Regions from separate parts of the Homo sapiens genome. Here all the other regions are linked to region 1. The links come from fine-mapping of genetic effects on gene expression. A gene starts in region 1. Each other region holds a variant in brackets. All regions are shown on one strand. Distances are between the middles of the regions. Region 1 holds the start of MROH1 (maestro heat like repeat family member 1). Region 2 overlaps HSF1 (heat shock transcription factor 1). Region 3 overlaps MROH1 (maestro heat like repeat family member 1).

The links. PIP is the estimated chance that this variant, and not a neighbour inherited with it, causes the effect. A credible set is the group of variants that fine-mapping cannot tell apart.
Region 2: its variant is the best candidate, but not a certain one, in a credible set for the expression of MROH1 in cerebellar hemisphere (GTEx, PIP 0.88).
Region 3: its variant is the best candidate, but not a certain one, in a credible set for the expression of MROH1 in whole blood (TOPMed, PIP 0.72).

What each region holds. Positions count from the first base shown.
Region 1 is chr8:144,142,869-144,153,110 of GRCh38, forward strand. It overlaps MROH1 (maestro heat like repeat family member 1), which reads left to right and starts at 5,148. Exons shown (of 44, transcript NM_032450.3): 1 at 5,148-5,208. It also overlaps the pseudogene TSSK5P. RefSeq lists silencers at 4,420-4,509, 4,630-4,829, 5,000-5,379.
Region 2 is chr8:144,304,629-144,314,870 of GRCh38, forward strand. It overlaps HSF1 (heat shock transcription factor 1), which reads left to right. Exons shown (of 13, transcript NM_005526.4): 2 at 4,278-4,386; 3 at 4,827-4,963; 4 at 5,144-5,268; 5 at 6,546-6,621; 6 at 6,693-6,754; 7 at 6,877-6,973; 8 at 7,072-7,208; 9 at 7,335-7,616; 10 at 8,883-8,988; 11 at 9,218-9,283; 12 at 9,357-9,426; 13 at 9,497-10,092. The coding sequence ends at 9,702. DGAT1 (diacylglycerol O-acyltransferase 1) reads right to left here. Exons shown (of 17, transcript NM_012079.6): 17 at 9,956-10,242. LOC124902050 reads right to left here. Exons shown (of 2, transcript XM_047422537.1): 2 at 9,956-10,192. Among named protein-coding and RNA genes, the nearest start is that of MIR6848, 7.6 kb to the right of the region's middle. RefSeq lists an enhancer at 8,157-8,688. The variant A/G (reference allele first, on the strand shown) is at 7,742.
Region 3 is chr8:144,203,527-144,213,768 of GRCh38, forward strand. All of the region lies in intron 12 of MROH1 (maestro heat like repeat family member 1), which reads left to right. Among named protein-coding and RNA genes, the nearest start is that of MIR7112, 54 kb to the right of the region's middle. The variant A/G (reference allele first, on the strand shown) is at 5,395.

The DNA of each region.
Region 1 (10,242 bases):
TCCAGCCCTGGGGCGAAAGGGAGGTCCAAGGTGGGAGGGGGCGATAGGCCTGGGGCAGGCAGCTGGCTGGGGAGGCGGAGGGTGGGGACAGGCTGTGTCCAGGCTTCTGCCCACATGGTCAGGTGCTTGTAGGTAGCGTTGAGTGACAGATCTCATGGGGTAGGAGCTTGCGGGAGAACTCCACCGGGGCCTCGGTTGTAGAGACGATCTTGATAGCTATCTGTAGGGTGAAGGGCGCTTGCTGTGTGAGATTTGGCCCTTGAGGGGCTGGCTGTGGTAGGGCAGGCCCCTGTCCTTTATACACTTTGCTGGAATCCTCAGGGGGGATGCTGGGTGAGCAGTGCCCTTGGAGGGCAGTGATGACCTCCCTGCTCCCTCCTGTGCCAAGTACTTTGTGTTCAAGGGGTTTGGGAACAGGGGATGGTCAGCCTGCAGGAGCCCCGGGGAGGCCTCTGGGGAGGAAATGGGACTGGGGAGAGTATCAGGCGGAGGAAGCTGGAGCAGCTGGATGGTGCCTGAGTGGGTTTGGGACACGGAGGGGCCTGCTGGGGGGCACTGGAGCCCTTTGGGGAGGGAGGAAAGCCTGTCTTACCATGGTGTGGCGCTTGCCCTGCAGGTGGGAGGACAGCTTGGGGTTGTGGTGCATGCACTCGTGGGTGGCATCGGCCAAGTACACCTTGGAGAAGGCCCCAGAACTGATCTTCTTGGAGGAGAGCAGGTAGCCATTGTCCTTGCACTCACGCACCTGCTCCGTGAAGGTTCTCTGATCCAGCTTCTGCCTGCTGCTGCCCTTCATGGAGGGCAGTGCATGGAAGGGGGTGTGGTGGTCCAGTTTCACCAGTCTTGGGGGGCACAGCTGAGACCTGACTTGTGTCAGAGGGCAGGGGCCAGGGTGGTAGGGGGTGCTGGGTGGGAACTGCGTCCCTCTTGAGGCAGCAGCCACACTTCTGAAGACTTGCTGGGACTGCGGCAGAGGCAGGGAGTGATGGGGCTGCAAGCTCAGGGCGGGGGCTGGCACAGCTCTGGACTGGGCAGGGGGAGGGCCAGCTCTGGGAGACGAGGTGCAGGTTCTAGAGTGGAGAATTGAGCTGTACCTGCATTGTGCCCTCAAAGGGTGCGTCTTCTTGTTTTGAGGACCTGCCCACTCTGAGGACATCTTGTGGGACCAGTCCTGCCCACATGGGGCCCACTCTCTGTGAGGTGAAAACCCATTTCAAGGGCTGCAGCCAGGGTGAGGCCTCTGTGGACCCCTATGGACGTGGCTGGCCACAGAAAGCTGTTAAAGAAATGAGGGTGGGGATTTCTGGGGCATAAGGACAGGAAAAGGGACACATACGTGTCAACCACCATTTCAACTGCACCCCCTCCTTCGAGAGGATGCCATGGCCACACTCAGCTGGGCCCTAAGGTGGGCTGAGCCAGAGGAAGGCAGGCAGGAGCTCTGTCTCCCGGCCTTCTCCACTGGAGCCTGAAGCACCTCCTGCCCAGGCCAGCAAGGTGCAGGAAGCGTCCCACCTAGAGACCTCTGCAGACTTGACCACACACCCCAGGGCAAGCAAGGGCCCCACTCCTGAGCCTACCTCTGATCCTACAGTTCCAAGAGACAGAAGCCAACCTTGCCCCTCCCTTCTGGACCCCAGAGTGCCCTGTGGGCACTATTACTGCTAACGTTTGAGTGCCAGCTCTGTGCCGGGTGCCATTCTGGGCAGTCGCACCAGCTACCACTACCACCTGTAGCAGTCCTGCCCCCGTTCACAGAAGACATTCAGGAGCCCAGCCTGTGGGGGCAGTTCACATCTGGGATCTCAAGTCCTAACACAACCAAGCAATCCTCGCTTTACAGATGATGAAATTGAGCCGCCATGGTGGGGAAGCCCAACCCAAATGTGTCATCTCTGCTGTGAGCTAGACAGCACAGTGGCTGTGGGCCTGGAGGGCAGGGCTGCCTGATGGGCAGCCATCCTGGGAATGTCTGCAAGGGTCTGGTGCTTGGTACAGACCAGTGAGTCTGGGGAATTGGGGTCTCCACCAAGATCTGTGGGTGCACTTGGCATGTTTGCTGCAGAAAAGGCCCCAGAATGGGCTGGCTTGAACTGGAAAAACACACTTTCTCATCCCTTTTGGACCACGAGCTTCTTGAGAGCAAAGCATGTGTTTGATATTCCTTTGCTCACCCTCAGGCCTTGTTTGGCAAATTGCCTGGGATACAGAAAATAAGGACAAGGTCTGGGTGTAGTGGCTTATGCCTGTAATCCCAGCACTTTGGGTGACCAAGGCAGGAGGATCTCTTGAGGCCAGGAGTTGCAGACCAGCCTGGGTAACATAGTGAGACCTTGTCTCTGCAACAAAATTTAAAAATTAGCCAGACTTGGTGGTTCCCACTTGCAATCCCAGCTATTTGGGAGGCTGAGGCGAGAGGATCACTTGAGCGCAGGAATTTAAGGCTGCTGTGAGCTATGATTGTGCCACTGCACTCCAGCCTGGGTAACAGTGAGAGGCCTCATTTCAACAATAAAACCCAGCTTGGGCCGGGCGCGGTGGCTCATGCCTTTAATCCCAGCACTTTGGGAGGCCAAGACGGGCAGATCACGAGGTCAGGAGATAGAGACCATCCTGGTTAACACGGTGAAACCCTGTCTCTACAAAAAATACAAAAAAAAAAAATTAGCCGGGCATGGTGGCAGGCACCTGTAGTCCCAGCCAGTCGGGAGGCTGAGGCGGAAGAATGGCGTGAACCCGGGAGGCAGAGGTTGCAGTGAGCCGAGATCGCGCCACTGCACTCCAGCCTAGGGGACAGTTAGACCTCAGAAGAAACAAACTGGTTTGTGGTTGACCTGGGGGTTAGGTGTAGGGAAAAGAAAGACAGATCAGACTGTCCCTGTGTCTATGTAGAAAGGGAAGACATAAGAGACTCCATTTTGAAAAAGACCTGTACTTTAAACAATTGCGTTGCTGAGATGTTGTTAATTTGTAGCTTTGCCCCAGCCACTTTGATCCAACCTGGAGCTCACAAAAACGTGTGTTGTATGAAATCAAGGTTTAAGGGATCTAGGGCTGTGCAGGACGTGCTTTATTAACAAAATGTTTACAAGCAGTATACTTGGTAAAAGTCATCACCATTCTCTAGTCTCGATAAACCAGGGGCACAATGCACTGTGGAAAGCCACAGGGACCTCTGCCCTTGAAAGCAGGGTATTGTCCAAGGTTTCTCCCCATGTGATAGTCTGAAATATGGCCTCGTGGGATGAGAAAGACCTGACTGTCCCCCAAACTGACACCCGTAAAGGGTCTGTGCTGAGGTGGATTAGTAAAAGAGGAAAGCCTCTTGCAGTTGAGTTAGAGGAAGGCCACTGTCTCCTGCCTGCCCCTGGAAACTGAATGTCTTGGTATAAAACCCGATTGTACATTCAGTTCTGAGCTAGGAGAAAAACCGCCCTATGGTGGGAGGTGAGACATGTTTGCAGTAATGCTGCTTTGTTATTCTTTACTCCACTGAGATGTTTGGGTGGAGAGAAACATAAATCTGGCTTAAGTGCACGTCCAGTCATAGTACCTTCCCTTGAACTTAATTATGACATAGATGCTTTTGCTCACGTTTTTTGCTGACCTTCTCATCACCCTGCTCTCCTACAACATTCCTTTTTGCTGAAATAATGAAAATAATAATAAAAACTGAGGGAACTCAGAGGCCGGTGCTGGTGCAGGTCCTTGGTGTGCTGAGTGCTGGTCCCCTGGGCCCACTGTTGTTTCTCTATACTTTGTCTCTGTGTCTTATTTCTTTTCTCAGTCTCTCGTCCCACCCGACTAGAAATACCCACAGGTGTGGAGGGGCAGGCCACCCCTTCATTAGGAAAAAAATAGAAACTGCGCCAGGCAATTTAAGCAGGTGGGATTGGTTGCTTAAGTGTCAGAAGGGCTTGAGAGGCACGGGGGCAGGGTGGAGTTCGTCGAAGGTGGGGGCTGCAAGAAGCGGCCACTCTAGAACCGGAGCCAGGTGGTCCCGACCCAGGGTGGCTGAGCCTCTGGGCTCTGCTGCGGAGCCTGGGAGCCTGCGGCCCCTGCGGCACACCTCCGCTCCCACCAGTGGCAGGACACAGCTGGAAGCCCGCGAGTGTCAAGCCAAGTGATGACTGCAGGATCAGAACGGCCATTGGCTCTGTCCACCCTCCCTTTGCAGTCTCGATTATCCGCGTCGTTGCCTGCACCTGAGTCCATTCCCGGGGCTTCATTGGGCAGCCGTCCCGTGCGGGGCTTTGTAAGCAGCCCTCGGGAGCAAAATACAGACTCAGGCCTGCCCCTGGCGGAGGGGCTGGCGTTCGTTTGTGATCGGAGTGAAAGTGGGGCTGTGCTGCGCGCGGCAGCTGGTGTGCGTGAGGCGGGGGCGGCACCGAGACCGGGAGGGGACAAGGCCACAGGCGCGTGGGAAGCCGCCGCAGGGGCCGCGCCCGCATCCGCAAAGGGTACTGCGCTCTCCCGGGCGCCGTCCCCACAGCGGGAGCCCAGTCCCTCCGGCCAGGAGTGGACATCCTGCCCGCGCTGCTCCCGCCGCCTCCGCCTCTGCCGACGCCCAGCCTGGACGCGCGGCGGGCGCTTTCCTTCCTCACATCGCTCTTATCGCGTCCCGAGTTCCCGGGACCCCGCTGGTCGCCTCTTTCCCAACGAGCGCAGGGCCCTGCGAGTCCTGCCCCCCTCCGGGTGCCGCGGCCTCCAGCTGGCGCTTCCGGGGCAGACAGAGGGCGGGCGGGCCGCGCGAGTCCAGGGCGGGCGTGTGCTTGCGAGCGGCCGCAACGCCGCGCCGAGCCCGCGTCCCCGGCGTCTGGGAGCGGAGGTCGTCAGGGCTGTATGCGTCCGACGGGGACACGGGGACTGCAGCACCCCGGGGCTGGCGTAGCTGTCGCGAGCCTGAAGGCCGCGCCTGCGCCGTGGCGGCCGAACTGTCGCTCAACAGACGGGCGGGGCCGAGCGTGAGGCGGAGTCTGCGCACTGCTGCTTTGCAAATGAAGGTGGGCGGGGTGGAGCGAGCGTGAGAGACGTGCCCCCGACCAATAAGTGCAGAGATCGCTCGGGGGCGGGGACCTGCTGCCGCGCTCCAGGCTGCGGGTGGCCAGAAGGCAGCGGGGGCGGGCTCGGCGCGCGCGGCTCCGCCCACTCCGGGCCCCTGCTGGGCGGGAAGGCGGCGCCCCGGCCGAGGTGGCGGCGGCTCCTCAGGTAAACGGCGGGTGGGGATGAGCCTTCGGCGGCGCTGGGGAAGAGCCCCTCGGGGAAGTCTGGGCTGAAGAGCCTGGGGCGGCTCCCTTGGCGGGGCCGCGGAGGAAGCCGAGTCAGGAGGCGCCTCCCCAAGGTCACAGGGCGAACGCTGGGAGGGTCCTGGGTGTCGCGGGGACCTCGGCTCAGGTGTGCGCCGCGCCACAGCCCGGAAGAGAGGCCGGAGCTGTGCGGCTGTGCTCCTCCTCTGCGCCGCTAAGTCGTCTCGGCCGCGCGACCACCCCTCTTCGGGGAGCTTGGTGGTCCCCGGTGCCCGCCCCTCCGCGGGAGCCCGGTGGTCCCCGGTGCCCGCCCCTCCTGTGAGCCCGGTGGTCCCCAGTGCCCGGCCCTCCCCGGGAGCGCGGTGGTCCCCGGCCCTTCTCCCCCCAGGCGGGGCCACCGGGGGTCCTCTCTCCGGGAAGCCAAGCATACGCCCGGAGCCTGCAAAGCCGGCGTGCCCCGGGCCTCCGTATGCCTTCCGTATTCTCTGACGATCGCGAGCAGGAAGGTGATTTGTCCCTAGTCACGAGGATGACTGGTCATAGCGTGCCGGGCATAGCGCTGGCAGGGCCGCCGGGAGCCAGCCCTCACTCAGCCAAGGTGAGACTTAGGGGGTCGGATTTTCGGGCAGCGTCAGTGCAGCTGCAGTGTGAGGGTCAGAGGAAACCACTCTGCGGGCGCTGGTGGCTCGGTCCTACACACTCTGGGGAGGGGCTCCTTTGCCTGCTCAGTTGGGGAAGGGACAGACTCATAAACTCAAGTGCAGTGAGGTAAGCAGAAAAGGGGTACGGGGGTGTGGCCGAACTTAGGGATGTGAGCAGAGTTGGGTCGGGGACAGCCCTGTAGGCAGGGACCACTTTGGAAGGGGATGGTGGTGAACGCACACGATGCGGTAAGAGGCAGGCAGGGTAGGGCCGGTGATAAGTCAGGTGAGGGTGGTGAGTTGAGTTTAGAGCTGTTGGGTCTCAGTGCGATGACCATGGATGGAGATGTCCCGAAGACCTCGGGTCCCGGCGAGGCGAGGGCTGGAGATGCGTGTGGGAATCGTTGTTTGCGGCATGTTTCATAGGTGGTACGTGTTTGTGACGTGGCTGCATGGACAGTCTGGGCACCCTAGGGTGCTGCCGTCAGCAGGATCTTCAGTGCTCAGTCTCAGGCTCTCAGGGTCCCCGTGAACAGGTGTCTCTGGTCTCTCTTTGATGTCAGAGTGGAATGACCTGAGGCTAAGGTGTTTTTGTTAACTTGAAACTGACGTGCAGGCCGCTGTGGCTTGTGGAGACCTGCACCTCGTCATTTCCCACTGGCTGGGGTTGATTGCTGACTGCTGAGGGACACCAGGGGGTCAGAGGTGGAGGCTGTGGGGCATGTGCTTGCCTGAGTTCGTGGCTGTCTCCTGTGTCAGGAAACAGGTGCTGGTGCTTAGTTTTCTTTCCCAGGGTCCACAGAGGCCCAGGAGAGAAGCCTGGTTGCTGCCCTCTGTCTCGTAGCCCCCCTTTCACAGAGCTGGGTTATTTGGGGTAGAGATCCTCTGTCTGTGCCGGTCCACCCAGCTTGGTTTCTTTGGGGTAGGAGCACCAGGAAAGGCTCCCGTGGCTCTTGGGAGCTCCTAGCCAGTGTGCAGAGAACATGGACTGCTGCCCATCATGAGAAATGTGCTTTCTTCACTGAGCTTGAGGGGCCACCTGGTTTTGGGGGTTTGCATGAGCACCAGTGACACAGCTTGGTGTGGCCTGTATTGAGGAACCATGTTCTCGGTGGACTGTGAGCAGTGGGCTGTGGGATTGCATTTCCCAGGGTCATCAGCCTTATTGGTGACTTTGGAAGTTGATTCTGTGGCTGCTGTGCTGGGAGAGAAGGTTCCTTGGACCTGACGCGTGGGTGGGGCATTCTGTGACCTCCCAGTCTCCCTGCACACACCCAGCCCTGCAGGCTGGCTCACCACTGCTTCTGGGCTATTGATTCCTGTGGCCTGCACAGCCTCGCACACCCCCTCCTAACCCTTTTGGACCCAGTGCAGCACCTCTGTTGTGGGCACAGGTGTGGCAGCCATATACTTTTTGTGGCCGGAGGGCTTTCAAGACAGGAACTCTGGGCCTGGGATGGTGACTGGCGGGTGTTTACTAAATGTGGTTGAATTAAATGAAAAGGAAGCAGCTCTTTCATTCACACAGAAATGTGTGCTATGTAGGGAGAGAAGACCCTATCAACCCTGCCTGCCACCTTCTCCCATTCGTTTGCTTTTTGTTAATTTAACCAGAGCCCTGATTGGCATTTGTGTTTTTTTCTGACATCCCCATTATATACATGTGTGTGTACTAGTACGAGGGCATCTGTAGATAGATGTGGAAAAGTGGATGTTTAGCCACTGAGGCTTGTTGGGGCCGTTCTTCAGGTTCTGCTACTGGCACCAGCACCGAGTAGCCCCTGTCCTCAGCACGTCAGATGCTCTTGGTGTTCAACTGTGTGCTGGCCTCACTGCAAGCCTTTGACTGGTGACACTTTTTGCCATGTAGCCTACAAATAGAGGAGCTAGTCATCACTGATCGTCACCATTTGTAGGTGGTGGGACAGGGCACAGGGATTTTCCATGCCTGCTCATGGCTTACTGGCTCTGCCACTGAGCCCTTATCCAGCCACTGATGCAGGAGGGCTGGGAAGAGAAGAGTGTGGTCCCTTATGGAATAGGGGAAGGGAAGTGCTGGGTAGAGTAGAGCATGGTCCCTGGCTAGGGCTCCACCACCATGGACCTAGATGAGGACAGGCACTCCTGCCTTCCTGCCCAAATGTTACATTTCCCAAGACCACCCTGGCCTGCCATACATAGCTCCTGTGCCTATATAAACCTGAGACCCAGGCCAGGCGTGATGGCTCACGCCTGTAATCCCAGCACTTTGGGAGGCCCAGGCAGGCGGATCACTTGAGGTCAGGAGTTCGAGACCAGCCTGGCCAACATGGTGAAACCCCGTCTCCACTAAAAATACAAAAATTCGTCGAGTGTGGCGGTGGGCGCCTGTAATCCCACCTACTCAGGAGGCCAAGGCAGGAGAATCGCTTGAACCTGGGAGGCGGAGGTTACAGTGAGCCGAGATTGCGCCATTGCATTCCAGCCTGGGTGACAGAGCAATATTCTGTCTCAAAAAAAAAAAAAAAAAAAAAAAAAAACCTCCAAGATGCTAGCAAGGCAGGGACACAGGCAGCTGGACATAGAGAGGAGCAGATTGGCGGAAGAAGACACAAGCAACTGGACCTCGAGGGGAACACGCCAGTGGAAGAACACACCAACAGATGCCAGCACTCTGGCAGGCCATCGACTGGCTGGACAAGGTGGAGTTTGGCCAGGGCAGTCGGAGGAGAGCTGGGGCCACCAAGCAGCCCAACTCCAGAGGAAGACCATCTCCTTTCTGGCTCCCCCATTGGCTGAGAGCTGCTTCCACTCAATAGAACTTTACACTCATTCTCCAAGCCCAGGTGTGATCCGACTCTGCCGGTACACCAAAGGGCAAGAACCCGGGATACAAAAAGCCCTCTGTCCTTGCGACAAGTAGAGGGTCTAATTGAGCTGTTTAGCACAAGCTGCCTATAGACGGCAAACTAAAAGAGCACCCTGGAACACACGCCCACTGGGGCTTCAGGTGTAAACATTCATCCCTAGATACAGCCTCCCGTCTCTGTGCTCCCCCTAGAGGTTTGGGCAGCGGGGCACTGAAGAAGCAATTCGCACCAACGTCACACGCCCTGCGACGGGGACAAGGGGACCTTTCCGCAGCACCGTGCTGCACTGCCGTCGGCTCTGGAAGGGTGGCTGAGTGTCTCTGTTCAACCTAGGGGCAGTCAGCACAGTCCCCATATGTCTGCCGGCGATCTCTCTCTCTTCTGAGAATTCTTGCACGTCCTTTGCTCTCTTTCCTGTTTATCTCAGGGATGTGCACAAGCTCCTTTGCATACAGTAGTCCTTCCCTGTCCACAGGGATATGTCTCATACCTATATACCTATGATAAAGTTTAACTATAAATGAAGCACAATAAGAGGTTGACAGCAATGAATAATAAAATAGAACAGTTTATGACAATACTCAAGACAGCCTGCAATTTAAAACATGAGTTCATTTCTGGAATTTTTCTATTTAATATTTTTGGACTATGTTTGATTGTGGGTAACTGAAACCAAGGAAAGTAAAACAGGATAAGAGGGGACTACTATGTTAATATCAGGCAAGTCATTTTCTCATATATATTATGATTGGTTTATCATAACTGCCTTGTTTTTTTATTTAAAAAAAATTTTTTTTTTTTTTGAGACGGAGTCTTGCTCTGTCGCCAGGCTGGAGTGCAGTGGCACGATTTTGGCTCATTGCAACCTCTGCCTACTGGGTTCAAGCCATTCTCCTGCCTCAGCCTCCTGAGTAGCTGGGACTACAGGCGTGTGAAAAATTATTATTATTATTTTTTTTTTTGAGACAGTCTCGCTCTGTCGCCCAGGCTGGAGTGCAGTGGTGCAATCTCGGCTCACTGGAAGCTCCGCCTCCTGGGTTCATGCCATTCTCCTGCCTCAGCCTCCCGAGTAGCTGGGACTACAGGCGCCCGCCACCACACCCGGCTAATTTTTTGTATTTTTTAGTAGAGACGGGGTTTTACTGTGTTGGCCAGGATGGTCTCCATCTCCTGACCTTGTGATCTGCCCACCTCGGCCTCCCAAAGTTCTGGGATTACAGGCATGAGCCACTGCGCCTGGCCATGACCTCATATACTTTCTTCTCGTGCTGAGAACACTTAAAATCTACTCTCAGCAATTTTCAAGTATATATCACGTTGCTGTTAACTCTAGTCATCTATGTTGTGCAATTGATCTCTTGAATTTATTCTTCCTGTCTAACTGAAGCATTGACCCTGTGACCAACATCTCCCTAGTCCTCCACCTCTGCCAGCCCCGGTAACCACCGTTCTACTCTGCTTCTAGGAGTTCAACTCTTCATAGAAGTTGGGATTCCACGTGTGAGA
Region 2 (10,242 bases), 160 kb after region 1:
TATTTGTTTTGGTTTGTTTTTGTTTCTGTTTTTTTGGAGATGGAGTCTCGCTCTGTCACCCAGGCTAGAGGGCAGTGGCACGATCTGTGCTCACTACAACTTCTACCTCCCGGGTTCAAGCAGTTCTTCTGCCTCAGCCTCCCAAGTAGCTGGGATTACAGGCATGAGCCACGACACTAAAATTTTTCCATTTTTAGTAGAGGCGGGGTTTCACCATGCTGGCCAGGCTGGAACTCCTGACCTCAAACGATCCACACACCTCAGCCTCCCAAAGTGTTGGGATTACAGGCATGAGCCACCACACCAGGCATTTTAATCCTTTTTTTTTTTTTTTATTGAGACAGAGTCTCACTCTGTCCCCCAGGCTGGAGTGCAGTGGGGTGATCTCGGCTCACTGCAACCTCTGCCTCCTGGGTTCAAGCGATTCTCCTGCCTCAGCCTCCCGAGTAGCTGGGACTATAGGCGCCCGCCACTGTGCCGGCTAATTTTTATATTTTTAGTAGAGACGGGGTTTCCCCATGTTGGCCAGGCTGGTCTCGAATTCCTAACCTCAGGTGATCCGCCTGGCTCAGCCTCCCAACATGCTGGGATTACAGGTGTGAGCCACCATGCCCGGCTGTGTTACACTTTTTGTGGTGTCTCACAGGTCTCTGAGGCTCTGCTCATTTTTGTTTTTGTTTTTATTTTTTTGAGACAGAGTCTCTTTCTGTCACTAGACTGGAGTGCAGTGGTGCAATCTCGGCTCACTGCAACCTCTGCCTCCAGAGTTCAAGCGATTCTCTTGCCTCAGCCTCCCAAGTAGCTGGGATTACAGGCACATGCCACCATGCCCAACTAATTTTTTTTGTATTTTTAGTAGAGATGGGGTTTGACCATGTTGGCCAGGATGGTCTAGATCTCTTGACCTCGTGATCCAACCACCTTGGCCTCCCAAAGTGCTGAGATTACAGGCGTGAGCCACTGCGCCTGGCCGGCTCCTCCTTCTTATTCCTTCTGTCTTTTTTTCTCCTACTGGAGCACCTCAATTGACTGATCTTCATGTTTGCTGACTCCTTCTTCTCCTAGTCAGGTCTGCTCTTAAGCCCCTCTGGTTAATTTTTTTTTTTTTTTTTTTTTTTTTTTGAGACGGAGTCTCACTCTGTAGCCCAGGCTGGAGTGCAATGGCGCGATCTCGGCTCACTGCAACCTCTGCCTCCCGGGTTCAAACAATTCTCCTGCCTCAGCCTCCTGAGTAGCCGGGATTACAGGCATGAGCCACCACACCTGGCTAATTTTGTATTTTTAGTAGAGACGGGGTTTCTCCATGTTGGTCAGGTTGGTCTCCAACTCCTGACCTCAGGTGATCCGCCTGCCTTGGCCTCCCAAACTGCTGGGATTACAGGCGTGAGCCACCGCGCCCGGCCCCTCTGGTTGACTTTTAATCTGAGTTATTAAACTCTTCAGCTCCATAATTTTGATTTCGGGCTTCTTTACAATTTTTATCTCTTTATTGATACTCTCTGATAAGATGTCATTCTCATACTTTAGTTCTTCAGATGTGGTTTCCTTTAGTTGTTTGAACATATTTGAAATGATTGACTTAAAATCTTTGCCTCGTAAGTCCAGTGTCCAATGTTTTGGCTTCTTTGGGGACAGTTTCTATTGATTGCCTTTTTTTTTTTTTCCCGTGTATGGGGTATGGGTCCTAGCTTCTTGTTTCTTTGCATATCTCTATTTTTTTTTTTAACTAGAGTTTTTTGTTTGTTTGTTTGTTTGTTTGTTTTTGAGTCTGTTACCCAGGCTGGAGCGCAGTAGTTCAATCACAGCTCACTGCAGCCTTCACCTCCGGAGCTCAAGGGATCCTCCCTCCTCAGCCTCCTGAGTAGCTGGGATGATAGGTGTGCGCCACCACGCCCACTTAATTTTTGTATTTCTTCTAGAGACGGGGTTTTGCCATGTTGCCCAGGCCAGTCTCCAACTCCTGAGCTTGAGCAACCCACCCGCCTCGGCTTCCCAAAGTGCTGGGACCGCAGGCGTGAACCAGCGCAGCCGGCTGGAAAACTGGAACTCTCATCGGTTGAGAGTGGCAGCTCTGGAGCTCGGACTCCCCCACCTCCCCAGGATTTGTCATTGCTGCTGTTTGTCGTGGTTATCTGTCAGGTAGCTTTTCGGCACTAATTCTGTAAAGGTTGCGTTCTTTCTTGTTTATGGCCACTGCCGTCTCTGTTCAGTTAACTGAGATAGGTGGTGATGGGGCAGAAATGTTCTTGAATGCCTGGGGCCAGTGAGTCTCCCGTCTTTTCCGGGGGCTGTGTGTGTGTGTGTGTGTGTTGGGGACGCCTTCAGCACTCGGCCAGGCAGTGGACAACCCAACTGTATGCCTGACTTCCTGCTTACACAGAGCCTCAAGGTCAGCCAGAAGTGAGAGCTCGGGGCTGGCTCAGGTCTTTCCTGAGCACGGGCACGGCTCACACGTGTACACGGCTGCGAGATGTCCTGGAATATCTCAGAGCTTTTCAGAGCCCCTAGTGGCACCTCCTTCTCCCCAGCTGCCAGGCACTGCCTCAGGCAGCCACAGCGTTCAAAAATCACCTGTAAAGGTTTCAACAGGCACACCTCGGCAAACAGCTTTTTTATTCAGGAGAGCTTCAAGTCAAATCAGAGACAGCCTTGGGAGTGGACTCTTAGGTCAGATGCTGACAGTCCTCTGGGAATGGGGCCCTGGAGGAGCTCAAGCCCTGGCCCACCCCGCAGCGGCTGCCAGGACGCTGTTCCCACGGGGACTGCAGCTGTTGGTTTTTAAGGCTGCAGATGGAGTGGGAATAGGGCATGTAAAATGCCACAAAGCCTGGCTGGGCACAGAGGCTCACGCCTGTAATCCCAGCACTGCAGGAGGCCAAGGTGGGCGGATTGATTGAGGTCAGGAATTCGAGACCAGTCTGGGCAACATGGTGAAACCCCATCTCTCCTAAAAATACAGAAATGAGCCGGGCGTGGTGGCGCCTATAGTCAGCTACTCGGGAGGCTGAGGCAGGAGAATCACTTGAACTCGGGAGGCTGAGGCACGAGAATCGCTTGAACTGGGAGGCTGAGGCACGAGAATCGCTTGAACTGGGATGCAGAGGCTGCAGTGAGCCATGTTGGTGCTGGTGCACTCCAGCCTGAGCAAGACCTTGTCTCAGAAAAAAAAAAAGTTCACAAAGCCCACTGTTCTTACTAAGATTCAGCTGTTTTTCTTGAATAAATGCTCCCCGTGCTACTGTAATTCTTTGGTTAACTTTCAGAGTTCTGGAAAGTTGGCTTGGCGCTTTTCGCCGTCTCTCTCCTGCTGCCTTGGGGTCCTTTCCGTGACCGTTTCCCTCCCTGACACGTGTACATCCCTGTGTATTTCACATCTCTCTATGCTGGAAAGAGGTTCTCCACTTCTAGTGCCACACCACGGGGGTCTTTCTGGCTTTTTCCCTGTTTGCATCTGCAGCTCCCTTCCCTGGCAGGGAGAAACCTGCCCCACTGCCCTTCACCAGTTTCTTCACTGAGTCAGCCGCCCCTTCCTATGCAGACACCCCTCACCCCTCTCTGGCCCTGCTTCAGGCCCCCCTTCCCCGCCGTGTGGGCTTCTCGCTGTCCCCTAAGCCTTCGATGTCCCCTCTGAGCCACCGCGGCCACGGCCAACAGGGATGCCTCCCTCACCAGCGCCTCCTGATAGCTCTGGGCCTGAGCTCGGTAGAGAAATGGAAGAGGAAGGTATATGCAGTGTTTGACTGTCTCTGTTTCTTGTCTCACGTCACAAAACAAGACTGAATTTGGATTTCTGAACGCGACTGTGTTTTCCTCGGGAGTAATGAAATTAGGGCTCCATTTCCTTCGCTGTTCCCAAGGGAAAGGTCCTGCTTAAACAGGTGCTTTGTGAGTGGAAACGTGGCCAGAGTGCGGCGGGTGCTTTGTGAGTGGAAATGTGGCCAGAGTGCGGCGGATGCTTTGTGAGTGGAAACGTGGCCTTCTCTGGAAGCCCTGGGGAGGGGCTTTCCGACTGAGAGGAAGGCCTCGCATCTGCCCACCGCCCAGTCCTGGGCCTCACAGTGAGGATGCAGGTCACGCTGCACAGATGAGGCCCGTGTGGCAGGTGGTCCCAGGAACGAACTCGCCTCCCGCCAGCCCCCTGGGCCTCCCATGGCCCCAGCCCCATCAGGTGGAACGTGCACTGCCTGCGTTTCAGAAGGGGCGGCCTGGGGAAGGGGCGGCTTGGGCACGCTGCCCCTCACCACCACGCGTGACCCACCCATGTGTCTCCCTTTCAGAGCGGGAACAGCTTCCACGTGTTCGACCAGGGCCAGTTTGCCAAGGAGGTGCTGCCCAAGTACTTCAAGCACAACAACATGGCCAGCTTCGTGCGGCAGCTCAACATGTGTGAGTGCTGCCTCCAGGCAGCGCAGGGGTGCGGGAGGCAGACCTGCAGATGGCGGGACCCCAGCAGGAGGACCCTGTGATGAAGGACGGGGCGTCCTGTGCTGGCCAAGGGCATGGCGTGGGACCCTGCAAGCCTGGGGGCCGGGGAGCAGCCGCCTCTTCCATGGGGGAGGGTCCTTGTGGGTATGAACCTGGGGTCCCCATGGAAGAACCGTGAAGCCGGAGCTGTACTCCACGTGTGTCGGGCGCAGGGAGCCCTGTGGGGACACAGGGTCTCCCTTAGACCAAGGCCACTCGGCCACCCAGGCATGGGCTCTGAGGGGGCAGGGCAGGGTCTGACCATGGCCAAGCCCCGCAGCAGCCTCCTGGAGCAGTGGCCGCTCTTCAGGGGTTCTGGTCCCGCCCTGAGGCAGAGCTGCCCCCTTCCCTGTTATGTGCAGATGGCTTCCGGAAAGTGGTCCACATCGAGCAGGGCGGCCTGGTCAAGCCAGAGAGAGACGACACGGAGTTCCAGCACCCATGCTTCCTGCGTGGCCAGGAGCAGCTCCTTGAGAACATCAAGAGGAAAGTGACCAGTGTGAGTGCCGGCCCTGCACCCTTGCCCGGTCTCACCTGCCACAGCTCTCCCCGCCCGCCCCTCCCTGAGGGCTCCCACCCCAGCCTGCCCCTTCCTGAGGGACCTGGCTGCAGTGGACGAGCCTGAGCCTGCCAAGCTCCTAGGCTGCTCCAGTGACTCCTGTCCCTCTCGGGAATCCAGGTGTCCACCCTGAAGAGTGAAGACATAAAGATCCGCCAGGACAGCGTCACCAAGCTGCTGACGGACGTGCAGCTGATGAAGGGGAAGCAGGAGTGCATGGACTCCAAGCTCCTGGCCATGAAGCAGTAGGTCCCACACCAGCATTATGGGCCACAGCGGGTCCTGGCGCCCACCAAGAGGCCCCGGGTGCTGTGGGGGCAGGGCCCTGACCGGGGCCAGGTGCTCAGCTCCACCCTCCCGCTCCACGCACATCTACCCTGGGCCTCTGCCCCAGCCCCGCCGCCCGTGGCTGCTGCAACAGCTCTGGGGCCAGCCGTTTTCCATGTGCAGAAGGGGGTTGGGAGGGTCCCCTGCTCTGCACATCCCCAGCGCCCTCTGGGCCATTGGCTTCTGCCTGGCTCCGAGCTTGGCGGGACCCACCAGCCTACTTTTGAGGACAAGCCTTGCACAGCAGACCCGTCCCACCCGCCTCGGGCCTGGGGTCAGACCCACCTCAGGCCCTTCCTGGAACCGCTGTCCCACACTCGCCTGGGCCCATGGAGCTAGCCCCCAGCCCCTCCTCACCGGGACCCTGCGGCTCTGGGGAAACCTTAGCAGGAGCCTAACACACGGTGGCACCTGAGAAACTGAGGCAAGCCCACCTCGGAAGGCCAGCTCAGGTCTCACGTCCACTTTGGGGCTCCAGGCATGCGGGAACCCCAATGCCAGTACGGCTTCCTCGGCTCCGTGCAGCAGGCGCTCTTGACCCCCACGTCATGGAGGAGGCCTTGGCCTCAGACTCTCCTGCATGGGGTCTAGCAGGAGCCACCGGCTTTGTGATTCCTGGAGTCCGGCCACGTGGACCTGGCCTACCAAGAAGACTCACAGGCTTGACAGGGCCCAGCCTCCCAGAGCAGCAGGAGCGCGGTCATGGCCCTGCTCACCTGGCTGGGGACAGCTCTTCCCCACCCCTGAGCCACCTCCAGGCCTGGCGAGGGCCCTGAGCACCTACAGGACATGGGACAGCCAGTGTCGCAGCCTGAAGAACCGTCCTCCCTTAACCTGGCTGCTCAGGCCTTGGAAGGGCGGCCCAAGGGTCTGCTCCTGGCCTGTGTCCAAGGCAGCCCTCCAGGTGTTTGCCAGGATGGATGCCAGGATCCGGGTGCACCTGGCTCGCATGGATCCATCCCCAACACCCTACGTGACACCAGGTGTCCCCGGCAGGGAGGGGCAGTGGGACCAGCAAGCCCTGGCCCTGGCCCCCAGTCCCTCCACACACAAGTTCTCATCCTGGGGTGGGCCAGGCCAGACATGGTCACACTTACCCCTGCTCCTGCATGGGGGACAGGGAGGGTCTGTGGGGCTCCCTCAGCCCTGGGGCTCATGGGATTGGGCCCCACTGACCCAGCCTGGTCTGTTGCAGTGAGAATGAGGCTCTGTGGCGGGAGGTGGCCAGCCTTCGGCAGAAGCATGCCCAGCAACAGAAAGTCGTCAACAAGGTGGGGGCAGGGCCAGAGGGCCGGCGGGGGCCCCACAAGGGCCGGGGTAACTGTGTCCTCTCTCTCCACAGCTCATTCAGTTCCTGATCTCACTGGTGCAGTCAAACCGGATCCTGGGGGTGAAGAGAAAGATGTGAGGTTTTGGGGATGCCTGCATCCACCACCCGGGGCCCAGGGCTGTCCCCCTTCTCTGTCAGCTGTGCCCCGGGTACCCCGAGGTGGGGGGTGGTGGCTGACCTGCACCCTTCCCCACAGCCCCCTGATGCTGAACGACAGTGGCTCAGCACATTCCATGCCCAAGTATAGCCGGCAGTTCTCCCTGGAGCACGTCCACGGCTCGGGCCCCTACTCGGTGAGTGCCGGAGACAGGGCACCCGCCCAGGCATGCAGGCGGCAGTGGGGTGGGTTGCCCCTGCCGGCACTGCATGGACCTCCTGCCTTTGATTGCAGGCCCCCTCCCCAGCCTACAGCAGCTCCAGCCTCTACGCCCCTGATGCTGTGGCCAGCTCTGGACCCATCATCTCCGACATCACCGAGCTGGCTCCTGCCAGCCCCATGGCCTCCCCCGGCGGGAGCATAGACGAGAGGTGGGGGCCGCATCACCCCAGCCATCCTGTCCCCCAATGAGGCGAGCCCCTGTGGGCCCAGGGCAGAGTTGGGGATGAGGTGGGGCTGGCCGAGACGCCAGCTCACCTGGCCCCCCTCGTGTGCAGGCCCCTATCCAGCAGCCCCCTGGTGCGTGTCAAGGAGGAGCCCCCCAGCCCGCCTCAGAGCCCCCGGGTAGAGGAGGCGAGTCCCGGGCGCCCATCTTCCGTGGACACCCTCTTGTCCCCGACCGCCCTCATTGACTCCATCCTGCGGGAGAGTGAACCTGCCCCCGCCTCCGTCACAGCCCTCACGGACGCCAGGGGCCACACGGACACCGAGGGCCGGCCTCCCTCCCCCCCGCCCACCTCCACCCCTGAAAAGTGCCTCAGCGTAGCCTGCCTGGACAAGTGAGTGCCGCCCACCCCTGGCCCCACCCACAGCGCCTGGACGCACAGCCCTGGGCTTCAGCCCCGACTGTCCCAGTGGACTGAGCAGGGCAGCTGGCGAGGCAGGACCCTACCCCCAACCTCGG[A/G]GCTCGGGGCTGGGGAGGGAGACAGGTGCCAGCCAGATCACCCCACAGTCCCAAACGCCACAGAAGCCACGGGCATGTCCGGACAGGCTGCCGGGCCCTGCTCTCAGCCACCCGTCCTGCTGCCGCCACCCTCGCCACAGGCCACGGGCCCTGGCAGGTCGTGCTGCCCAGACACATGGCAGGAGATGGTGAGCAGGGCCGGCCTCCACACCCCCAGCCCCTGCCTGCAATGGGGGCTCTTGTTTTTGTATCTTGCAGTTTGGCTCGCACTCCACAGATGTCTAGGGTCGCCCGCCTCTTCCCCTGCCCCTCTTCCTCTCCGCATGGCCAAGTCCAGCCAGGGTTAGCGCTGACCCCACTGGGGAGGGAGGAGGGCTCTGCCAGCGCTCGGGCCCTCCCACACAGCCGTGGACCAGACCCAGCCTGGCCGGGCATGAGCGTCGGGCCTGGGCGGCAGCAGCCGAGACCCCTCTGTGGCGGGGGCTCAGTGTCGTCATGGCTCCCCTGGCCACGGGCCTGTGGTCATTGCCTGTGACAGGGATGACAGGGACAGGCCTCCCTGCTCTGGCACGGCCTCTGGTGTTGGCAGGATCCAGACTGCGGTGCTGACTGCACTTCCTGTCAGGCAGGGTCTCCAGGGCACCTCTGGGACCCAGCCTGGCTGTCCGTCCCATAGCCCAGGTGTGCCCTGTGGCCTAGGGCTTTCTTGGTCACAGCCACCAGACCGTGGGTCTCATCCCCACAGCAGCACCAGGGCAGGGACTGAGCCACCCACACACTGAGCAGAGCCCCACCTGTTTTCCCAGTGCAACGGGAAACCTCACCAACCCTGAACACTGAAATCCCTGATCCTTGTGCTGGAGCTGAATACGCCCCTTGTCTCCTGGGTCCACTGCCACCAAGGCCCCCAGGCCCTCATGGCAAAGGGATGCCCAGCATAGGCCCAGCCGCACCCCTGCAGGGCACAGAGCCTCCACTGCCTTCCAGGCCGTCCTCGAATGCGCTGCCCCCTCCAGCCTGTGCAGGCGTACACGGGGGTGCAGCCTGGGGGGTACAGTCAAGGGGAGCCCTTCTCCCACAGGAGGGCATTGGGGTGTGGGGCCTGGGGCACTGGTTCAGGTACCGCCTTATCCCGGGCCAGGAATGAGCTCAGTGACCACTTGGATGCTATGGACTCCAACCTGGATAACCTGCAGACCATGCTGAGCAGCCACGGCTTCAGCGTGGACACCAGTGCCCTGCTGGACGTGAGTGGAGCCCCGCCGCCCCGCCTCCCCGCCCCGCCTCCCCGCCGCGCCGCCCCGCCTCCCCGCCCCGCCTCCCCGCCTCCCCGCGCCGCCGCCCCGCCTCCCCGCCCCGCCTCCCCGCGCCTCCCCGCCTCCCCGCCCCGCCTCCCCGCCTCCCCGCCCCGCCTCCCCGCCCCGCCTCCCCGCCCCGCCCCCGGGTGCTGTTCTGACTTCCCTCCCTCCTCCGCAGCTGTTCAGCCCCTCGGTGACCGTGCCCGACATGAGCCTGCCTGACCTTGACAGCAGCCTGGCCAGTGTGCGTAGGCGGGCGGGGGGTGAGGGGGAACGAGACCAGCGGGAGTGCTCACAATACCGTCTCCACCCCACAGATCCAAGAGCTCCTGTCTCCCCAGGAGCCCCCCAGGCCTCCCGAGGCAGAGAACAGCAGCCCGGATTCAGGTGAGCCAAGTCCCACCGGCCCCACCTCTGCCCCCAACCCCCCACCGCCTTGACACCCCCACCCCCGCAGGGAAGCAGCTGGTGCACTACACAGCGCAGCCGCTGTTCCTGCTGGACCCCGGCTCCGTGGACACCGGGAGCAACGACCTGCCGGTGCTGTTTGAGCTGGGAGAGGGCTCCTACTTCTCCGAAGGGGACGGCTTCGCCGAGGACCCCACCATCTCCCTGCTGACAGGCTCGGAGCCTCCCAAAGCCAAGGACCCCACTGTCTCCTAGAGGCCCCGGAGGAGCTGGGCCAGCCGCCCACCCCCACCCCCAGTGCAGGGCTGGTCTTGGGGAGGCAGGGCAGCCTCGCGGTCTTGGGCACTGGTGGGTCGGCCGCCATAGCCCCAGTAGGACAAACGGGCTCGGGTCTGGGCAGCACCTCTGGTCAGGAGGGTCACCCTGGCCTGCCAGTCTGCCTTCCCCCAACCCCGTGTCCTGTGGTTTGGTTGGGGCTTCACAGCCACACCTGGACTGACCCTGCAGGTTGTTCATAGTCAGAATTGTATTTTGGATTTTTACACAACTGTCCCGTTCCCCGCTCCACAGAGATACACAGATATATACACACAGTGGATGGACGGACAAGACAGGCAGAGATCTATAAACAGACAGGCTCTATGCTATGGCCTCCATGTGTTTCCTCTGTCCCAGGGTGGTGCGGTGGGTGGTGCTGCAATGAGGAGGGGCCCAGGGCACAGAAGGGCCGGGCTGCAGTGGCCTCCTGGGGGAAGACGGATGCTTGCAGCTAGCTCCGTGCCTGCCCGACTCCCC
Region 3 (10,242 bases), 61 kb after region 1:
TGGCCCGGAGAGGAGCGCCCGCTCTCTGGAGGGGAAGAGAGAGAAGCGCAGGCTCTCTGTGGAGGGCCTGAGAGGAGAGCGCCTGCAGCTTCCACACAGAGGGGCTGCTCTGGTCAGTGGTCCTTGGGGAAGGGAGCCTCAGAGGCATGGGGCGTGTGGCAGCCCCACAGAAAGTAAAGCATCTGCGTCAGCAGCATGCACTCAGCCTCTGGTGGTAGAAGTAACCCTTGAGGCAGGTGCTCTTCTCCCCATTTACCTGATGAGGTTGGCATCTGAAGTGGAATTCTTAGTGCCCATGCTCTTGTTAGAGATGGGTTTTTCCATTCAGAAGTTCAACATTTCATGGGATTAACCATGCTCAACTTCCCTTTGTTAATTCATCAATCACATTTATGCTTTTCAGCGTTCACTTTGTTTTCCCCATATTTCATTTTCCTTGAAGTTCTTTCTCTGTGCATTTACGTATGTACAAATGCATGTACGCAAGGAAATATTTTAACCAAATGACATACTTCAAAACATGCTTTTTTCACTTGCTAGTATATCTTAGAGAACTTTTAACATCAGCACATATACATCTGTGTCATTTTTTGTTTTGTTTTGAGACAGGGTCTCGTTCTTTCACCCAGGTTGGAATGCAGTGGTGCAGTCATAGCTTACTGTAGCCTTGAGCTCCTGTGCTCAAGCAATTCTCCCACCTCAGCCTCCCAAGCAGCTGGGACTGCGGGTGTGCACCACCACACTCTGCCAGTTTTTTTGTATTTTTGTAGAAATGGGGTCTACTTATGTTGCCCAGGCTGGTCTCAAACTCCTGGGTTCAAGTGATCCTCTTTCCTTGGCCTCCCAAAGTGCTGGGATTACAGAAGTGAGATGGGCATCTATGCCGTCTATGTCATTTTTAATTGTTTTTATTTGAAGTATAATACACATACAGAAAAATGTACACGTTAACTGTTCAGCTTCATGAATAATCACACAGTAAGCCTATGTATTTATTCACCAACCAGGTGAAGAAATGGGACATTGACAACACCCAGGGGTGGCACTCTCAAGTCCCTCAGAAGGGGTGACTTCTAACAATAGAAGATAGTGTTGCTGTTTCAGGATGTTGTACAAAGAGAATTGTATGGTGTAAATAATTTTGTATCTGGCTTCTTTTCCTCAGTATTCTCTTGGTGAAATTTATACATATAGTACAGCTTATTTATTTTCACTCCCGTGAAGGATTCCAGTGAATTATCTACTACAGTGATTCATTTTGCCTGTGATGGGTAAATGGCTATATCCAGTATTTAACTGTTAATGCATAAGCCACTATTAACATTTGTCCTTTACACAGTTAGTGTTTACCTAGATGTAGAATTTTGGGTTATAAAGTATGTATGTGTTCAAGTTGCATAGATAAACCCTTCTGTTTTTCCAAAGTAGCTGTTTATACCCCAATTTATACCCCACACCTTATGTCTCACAAGTGGCTTATGAGCATTATTGCTTCATGTCCTCACCAACATTGGTTGGTCTTTAATTTTAGCCATTTTTGTGGGTATGTTATGAGGTCCTGCTTTGTTGCCCAGGCTGGTCTCCAACTCCTGGGCTCAAGCAATCCTCCCACCTTGGCCTCCCAAAGTACTGGGATTACAGGCGTGAGCCATTGCACCCAGCCAGAAGTCATCAAGTTTTCAATGAAAATATTGGAACATGATTGCAAGTTGAGGCCGTGGTTGGTCCCTGCATGTCATTCTTTCAGTCCATGGTCCAGAGAGCTGTTTCTTGTGTTAGACACCAGGCCATCTCAGTTTAAGTGGCTGGGTATAAAAGTCTGAGGTATCTTAATATGTTGCTTTCTTGTCTTCTAGAATCTGTTACTGCTATTGATAACTCATTGATGACTATCTGATTTGACTGGGATTTTCCTTATATATGATTTGGTCTTTTCTGCCTAGATGCCCAAAGGATTTTTATATATATATAAATCCTTTGCATATATATAGACACACACACACACACACACGCATGCATGCCAGGATTACAGGCTGTTTTATATCTTAAAACCGGAAATTTTACTGTGTCTCAGTGTTGGCTATTCTGAGTTGATTTCCCCCCCAGGTCCATAGAGTGCGCATTCAGCATTTGCGTCAATTCTGTTTTATCTCAAGAGACCTTGTTTTTCAGTCATAGCATTTCAGTACCCCATGACTTCGGAAGCCTTCTCTGGGATTCCCTGTTACATGTGTGTTGTGTCATTGTTGCCTATCTTAGATACTTTTATAAATCAAATTTTTGAAAGGCTTTTGGCCTCCAGTCATATTTTCTTCCAGAATTTTATTTTCTAAAATTGAACATAATCTTCAATAGAAATGCAGTAAAATGCATAAATCTTAACTGTATACTTGGTGACATTTTACACATTGTTCACCCATATGACTACCACTCAAATCAAAATGTGGAACATTTTTCTAAAACCCAAAAAGTTTTGCTTGTATTTATTTTCAGCTAACACCTACACCTACTGTTAAGAAGTGACCTCTTTTATGAGGTCACAGCGCAGGCTTGTGCTCTGTCGCCCAGGCTGGAGTGCGGTGGCACGATCACAGCTCACTGCAGCCTTGACCTCACGGGTTCAAGGGATCTTCCTGCCTCGGCCTCCTGAGTGGCTGGGACTGCAGGAGTGTACCCGGCCCACCGTTATGACTTCTGTCACCATAATTAATTCTGCCTGCTGTTGAGTTCCATGTAGATGGGCTAGTTGTAGGAGGACCCTTCGTGAGCGTAGGCATTCACTGAGCACGGTGCTGCTGTCAGTGCACTCTTCTTTACTGCTAAGTTGTATTCTGTTACATTTTCTGAATTTAAAAGTTATTTGTTTTCCTGTTAACAGACACTTGGGTTGTTCATGTTCTTTTTTTTTTTTTTGAGACATAGTTTCGCTCTTGTTGCCCAGGCTGGAAGGTAGTGGCACGATCTCGGCTCACTGCAACCTCCACCTCCCGGGTTCAAGCGATTCTCCTGCCTCAGCTTCCTGAGTAGCTGGGATTACAGGCGAACACCACCACACCCGGCTAATTTTTGTATTTTTAATAGAGATGGGGTTTCGCCATGTTGGCCAGGCTGGTCTCGAACTCCTGGACCTCAGGTGATCCACCCGCCTCGGTCTCCCAAAGTGCTGGGATTATAGGCATGAGCCACCGTGCCTGGCCTTTTTTCTCATTTTAAATTGTCCTCTTTGCCAGACACGGTGGCTCACGCCTGTAATCCCAGAACTTTGCGAGGCCGAGGCAGGTGGATCACCTGAGGTCAGGAGTTTGAGACTAGCCTGGCCAACATGGTGAAACCCTCTCTCTACTAAAAATACAAAAAAATGCCAGGTGTGGTGGCACACGCCTGTAGTTCCAGCTACTCTGGAGGCTGAGGCAGGAGAATTGCTTGAACCCGGGCGGCAGAGGTTGCAGTGAGCCAAGATTGCATCACTGCGCTCCAGCCTGGGCGACAGAGCGAGATTCTGTCTCAATTAAAAGAGAGAGAAAAGAAATTTAAAAAAAAAAATGGAAGTTCCCTGGTGAGTAAATTGATGAAGCACCTTTTCATATGCTTATTGACCTTCAGATATATTTGCGTATATATGTTGAAGTTCCTTTTCAAGTCTTTTTTTTGGGGGGTGGGGGGCCAGTTGTTGTTTTTTTGAGATGGAGTCGTGCTCTGTCACCAAGCCGGAGTGCAGTGGTGCGATCTTGGCTCACTGCAACCTCCGCCTCCTGGGTTCAAGCAATTCTCCTGCCTCAGCCTCCCAAGTAGCTAGGACTACAGGCGCTCACCACCATGCCCAGCTAATTTTTGTATTTTTAGTAGAGACAGGGTTTCACCATGTTGGCCAGGATGGTCTTGATCTTCTGACCTCGTGATCTACCCACCTTGGCCTCCCAAAGTGCTGGGATTTACAGGCGTGAGCCACCACGCCCGACCCCTGTTCAGGTCTTTTGCCCATTTTGATTGATTTATAGAGAGAGGGTCTCACTACGTTACCCAGGCTAGAGTGCAGTTCTGTGATCATAGCTTACCACATCCTCGGCCTCCTGGGCTCAAGCGATCCTTCTGCCCCAGCCTCCAGAGTAGCCTGGGTTACAGGAGTGCACTACCATGCCCAGCTGTTGTTCATTTAACAACTGGGTTGTTTGTCGTTTTATTATGATTATTTTGTAGTGTTCTTTATTGGATACATAGAGACATAAATATATGTTTTTATGATTAGTACCTTTATGTCTAAGAAACCTTTGCCTGCTCAGAAGTCATGAAGATATTCTTCTATATTTTCTTTTAGATGCTTTATTGTTTGAGCTTGCAAATTTATGTCTGTGATTCATCTTTTACTAATGTTTGGGTGTGAGTGAAATGTAGGGGGCAAGGTGTGTTTTTTTTTAATTACTTTTTTTTTTTTTTTTGAGACAGAGTTTTGCTGTTGTTGCCCAGGCTGGAGTGCAGTGGTGCGATCTCAGCTCGCTGAAGCCTCCACCTCCCAGGTTCAAGTGATTCTCCTGCCTCAGCCTCCCGAGTATCTGGGATTACAGGCACATGCCATCACACCGGCTAATTTTGTATTTTTAGTAGAGACAGGATTTTGCCATGTTGATCAGGCTGGTCTCAAACTCCTGACCTCAGGTGATCCGCCCGCCTCGGCCTCCCAAAATGTTGGGATTACAGGCGTGAGCCACCACACCCGGCCTGCAAGGTTATTTTTATATGGATGTCCAGTTGTTCCAGTCTCACTTGTTGAAAAGACTTTACTTTCTCCATTGAATTGCTTCTGTGCCTTGGTACAAGGTCAGGTAACCTTATGTATTAATGTAACAGCTGCAGTAACAAAGTACCACCGACTGGTGGGTGGGGTTTTTTTTTTTTCTATTACCCTGATCTCTGTTTTATCTTCATGTGCATTTTTCCTGTGTGCCTGTCTGTATCCCTATATCCCCCTTTTATAAGGGTACCAGCCATATTGGATGAAGGGCCCACCCTACTCCAGTGTGACCCCCTCTCAACTTATTAATTCTGCAGTAACTATTTCCAAATAAGGTCACATTCCGAGGTACAGGGGTTGGGATTTGCACATACGAATTTTGAGGCCACAATTCAACTTATAGCATCATATGTTAGTGGGTATATTTCAGGACTCTATTCTTTCCTTACACCAATATCACACTTTTTTTTTTCTTTTTTCTTTTTTGAGACAAAGTCTCACTGTGTCACCCAGGCTGGAGTACAGTGGCGCGACCTTGGCTTACTGCAGCCTCTGTCTCTTGGGTTCAAGCGATTCTCCTGCCTCAGGCTCCTGAGTAGCTGGGATTACAGGCATGCACCACCACATCCGGCTAATTTTTGTGTTTTTAGTAGAGACAGGGTTTC[A/G]CTGTGTTGGCCAGGCTGGTCTTGAACTCCTGATCTCAGGTGATCCACCTGCCTCAGCCTCCCAAAGTGCTGGCATTACAGGCATGAGCCAATGCACTCGGCCATTTTGTGTGTGTGTGTGTGTGTGTGTGTGTGTGTGTGTGTGTGTGTGTGTTTAGTGGAGACGGAGTTTCGCCATGTTAGTCAGGCTGGTCTCAAACTCCTGGACTCAAGTGATCTGCCCGCCTCAGCCTCCCAAAGTGCTGGGATTATAGGCCAATATCACAGTTTCTCAGTTGTTTTAGTTTTATCCTAAGGCTTTAAATCTGGTAGAGGATGTCCTTCAACTTTATTCTTCTTCAAGATTGTTCATCCCCATTGAAAAATCGTTAGTATAGGCCGGGCACGGTGGCTCAAACGCCTGTAATCCCGGCACTTTGGGAGGCTGAGGCAGGCGGATCACGAGGTTAGGAGATTGAGATCATCCTGGCTAACACAGTGAAACCCCGTCTCTACAAAAAATACAAAAAATTAGCTGGGCGTGGTGGCGGGCGCCTGTAGTTCCAGCTACTTGGGAGGCTGAGGCAGAGAATGGTGTGAACCCAGGAGGCAGAGCTTGCAGTGAGCTGAGATGGTGCCACTGCACTCCAGCCTGGGCGACAGAGTGAGACTCCGTCTCAAAAAAAAAAAAAGAAAAAAGAAAAATCGTTAGTATAAAAGAAATCATGGAAGGGCACAGTGGCTCACACCTGTAATCCTAGCACTTTGGGATCCCGTAGCAAGCAGATCGCTTTATCCTAGGAGCTTCAGACTAGGCTGAAAAACATGGTGAAACCCTGTCTCTACTAAAAATAAAAAAAGCCAGGTGTGGTAGCATGCATCTGTAGTCCCAGCTACTCTGGGGACTGAGGTGAGAGGATCACCTGAGCCCAGGAGGTCGAGGCTGCAGTGAGCTGTGACGGTGCCACTGCATTTCAGCCTTGGCTACAGAGTGAGACCCTGTCTCAAAAAAAAAAAAAAAAGGGAAGGAAATGTAGAAACCACATAAAACAAATGTGTGACTTATTACATATCATTCTAAGACAACAACATCAGATCTACCACCAGGTCTTTTGGACTGAAGTTGCCACCGAGACGCCCCTCCTTGCATCCTATTCCAGTCACAGTTCTTCACTCCCCAACAAGTAACAGCTATCCTGATTTTTATAGTAATCACTCCCTTATGATTAGCTGTGTCCACTTTAAAAGCCTACCTATGGCCGGGTGCGGTGGCTCACACCTGTAATCCTAGCATTTTGGGAGCCTGAGAGGGGCGGATCACTTGAGGTCAGGAATTTGAGACCAGCCTGGCCAATACAGGGAAACCCTGTCTCTACTAAAAATACAAAAATTAGCCAGCGTGGTGGCAGGTGCCTGTAATCCCAGCTACTTGGGAGGCTGAGGCAGGAGAATTGCTTGAACCTGGGAGGGGGAGGTTGCAGTGAGCCGAGATTACGCCACTGCATAAACAGGCCCTGTGCGGTGGCTCACACCTGTAATCCCAGCACTTTGGGAGGCCAAGGCAGGCAGATTACTTGAGGCCAGGAGTTCGAAACCAGCCTGGGCAACATGATGAAACCCCATCTCTACTAAAAATGCAAAAATTAGCTGGGTATAGTGGCGCACACCTGTCCCAGCTACTCAGGAGGCTAAGACATGAGAATCGCTTGAGCCCAGGTGGCAGAGGTTGCAGTGAGCCAAGATCGTGCCACTGCACTCCAGCCTGGGTGACAGATGGAGACTCTGTCTCTCTCTCTCTCTCTATCTCTCTATATATATATACATTCAAATTTATATAGAGATAATAATGTATAAATATATTTTTACATAGATTTAAGTCTTTTTTTGGAGGCTTGACCATTGGTGATTTTGTTTATTTTTAGTGTGGTAAAATACATGCAATATAAAATTTAGCATCTTAATCGTTTTTAAGCAAATGCTTCAGTAGTGTTAAGTACATTCTCATTGTCAGGCAACTGTCACCACCATCTGCCTCCACAACTCTTTTCATCTTGCAAAACTGAAACTCCGTGCCTGTGAAACAGCAACTCCCCATATTTAAGTCCCTCATAAGCTACAGGTTCCCCTCCGTTCTTCTCTTTCTCTTATAATTTATCTGTAGAAGAACCTGGCTGTTTATTCTGTGGATTTGCTCATCGTTGAGTTTTGCTGACTGCATTGTCAAGGTGCAAGTCAACATGTTTCTCTGCCATCTGAATTTCTAGCACATTGGCAGCTGGATTCAGAAACAGATTCAGACTCAAGCTCAGTCCCTTGGGCAAGACGATAGGAGTCATGTGATATGTGGTATTCTCTCCTTTGAACGTCAGTCTTAGCAGCATTGATGCTGAATGCCTGTATCCATTAATTAATTAATTGGTGGGAGGATGATACTATAATTCTATCATTTATTTTTCATTAAGTGGAACACCTTGACAAAGAGATACTTGCCCCAGGTACCATTTGCTTACCCAGGGGTATGGTTCATATAAGAAAGGCAGGGTTGGCCGGGCACAGTGGCTCATGCCTGTAATCCCAGCACTTTGGGAGGCGGAGGCAGGTGGATCACGAGGTCAGGAGTTCAAGACCAGCCTGACCAACATGGTGAAACCCCCCTCCCTACTAAAAAATACAAAAATTAGCCAGGCATGGTGATGCGGGCCTGTAATCCCAGCTAATCCAGGAGGCTGAGGCAGAGAATCGCTTAAACCCAGGAGACAGAGGCTGCAGTGAGCCAAGATTGCGACACTGCACTCCAGCCTGTGCGACAAGAGTGAAATTCCATCTCAAAAAAAAAAAAAAGAAAAAGAAAGGTAGGTTCAGCCCTTGATTCTTTTGTGTTTTTATTTATCAGTTTTCAAGGTAGTGGATTGGTTTCCTATCACCCTCCAGAGGTGGTTTGGAAGGACGCATTTGATGGCTTCAATCCAGAGCAGTCATCACCATCACCGAAGCTCAGATCGTCTCATCTTTGGCAAGCGGCAGCCTCTTGAGATCTGAATCCCTCTGATACGGCCCTGCTGGTCTTTGGCAGCTCATGTTTTAGGCTTCTTTCATCTGTTTCTTGCTTTAGACCTGGAATTGGCCATTTCTACAAAAATAGCCCTGGTTCCTTTTAGTGAGAAGCTGTGTTGTTTTTTTGTTTGTTTGTTTGTTTGTTTTTGAGATGGAGTCTCACTCTGTCGCCCAGGGTGGAGTGTAGCGGCTCAAACACGGCTCACTGCAACCCTAACCTCCTGGGCTTAAGGGATCCTCCTGTCTCAGCCTCCTAAGTAGCTGGGACTTGCAGGTGCACACCACCACACCTGGCTAATTTTTCTATTTTTTGTAGAGATGGGGTCTCACTATGTTGCCCAGGCTGGTCCTGGATTCCTGGGCTCAAGTGATCCACTTGCCTCGGCCTCCCAAAGTACTGGCATTACAGGTATGAGTCACTGCACCTAGCCAAGAAGTTACCTTTTAAGACAGTAGTCTGTTTCTGGAGGGCTCATTACTTCTGGATGGTTACTATTCCTGGGCCTTTTCAGTAGACAGAGCTAGGAAATATCTCTATCAGTAGATAGATAAAATACCTTATGAGTTCATGTTGATACTTCCAGTTCAACATATGGACCTCAGAGATTTTTACCTCTCTTCTGTTACTTTTTTTTTTTTTTTTTTTTTTTTTTTTTGAGACAGTCTTGCTTTGTTCCCCAGGCTGGAGTGCAGTGGTGGGATCATGGCTTACTGTAACCTCTGTTTTCCAGGTTCAAGCGATTCTCATGCCCCAGCCTCCCTACTAGCTGGGACTACAGGCATGCGCCACGACACCCAGTTAATTTTTGTATTTTTTAGTACAGATAGGGTTTCACCATGTTGGCCAGACTGATCTTGAGCTCCTGATCTCAAGTGATCCACCTGCCCCGGCCTCCCAAAGTGTTGGGATTACAGGCATGAGCCACCGCATCTAACCTCTTTTCTGTTACGTCTCTATCTCTGTTCTCAGGAATCCAGTTCTCAAGGTTAATAGAATTGGACTATCCCATAATTACCATTTGTTTGATCTCGTTACACAGGCAGCACTAACACCAGAATAACACTGATGTTGCCATCAGCAGTCACACGACTGAAACATGAGGACTGCCCTGCACGTGCTGCTCCGCAGCCTGCTGATCTAACGGCCGCGCCCGCGTCTGTTGCTTGAGTCACCACGGCTGTTACATCCCGTGCTCTCCCTTCTCTGCCTTCTTGGTGTTGGTTCTGCGGGCGACTGCCCATGTGGCCCTCAGCCCCATCCTCTGTTCATGGCTCTCTGCCACTCTTGTTGTCCAAAGCTCTTTCTCTGTAGGTTCCGTGGGAAGAGCTCATGGGAACATGATCTTCGACCTCATGCTTGCTGATCATAGTTTATTGTGCCTTTTATCGTTGATGGTTTTGCTGGTTACAGGATTCTTGGCTGACATTTCCTTGAGTGTCTTAAGTTATTCCATATTCTTCTGGCAGAGAGTTGCCAGATTTAGCAAAAACAAATAAACAGGATGCCCCGAATATTGTGTGGGACATTTTTGTACTGAAAACATGATTTGCTGGGCTGGGAGCGGTGGTTCGCGTCTGTAATCCCAGTACTTTGGGAGGCCAAGGCAGGCAGATCATTTGAGGTCAGGAGTTCAAGAACAGCCTGGGTAACATGGTGAAACCCCGTTTCTGCTAAAAATACAAAAATTAGCTGGGCGTGGTGGCGTGTGCCTATAATCCCAGCTACTCAGGAGGCTGAGGCAGGAGGATCACTTGAGCCTGGGAAGCAGAGGTTGCAGTGAGCCAAGATCACACACTGCACTCCAGCCTGGGCAG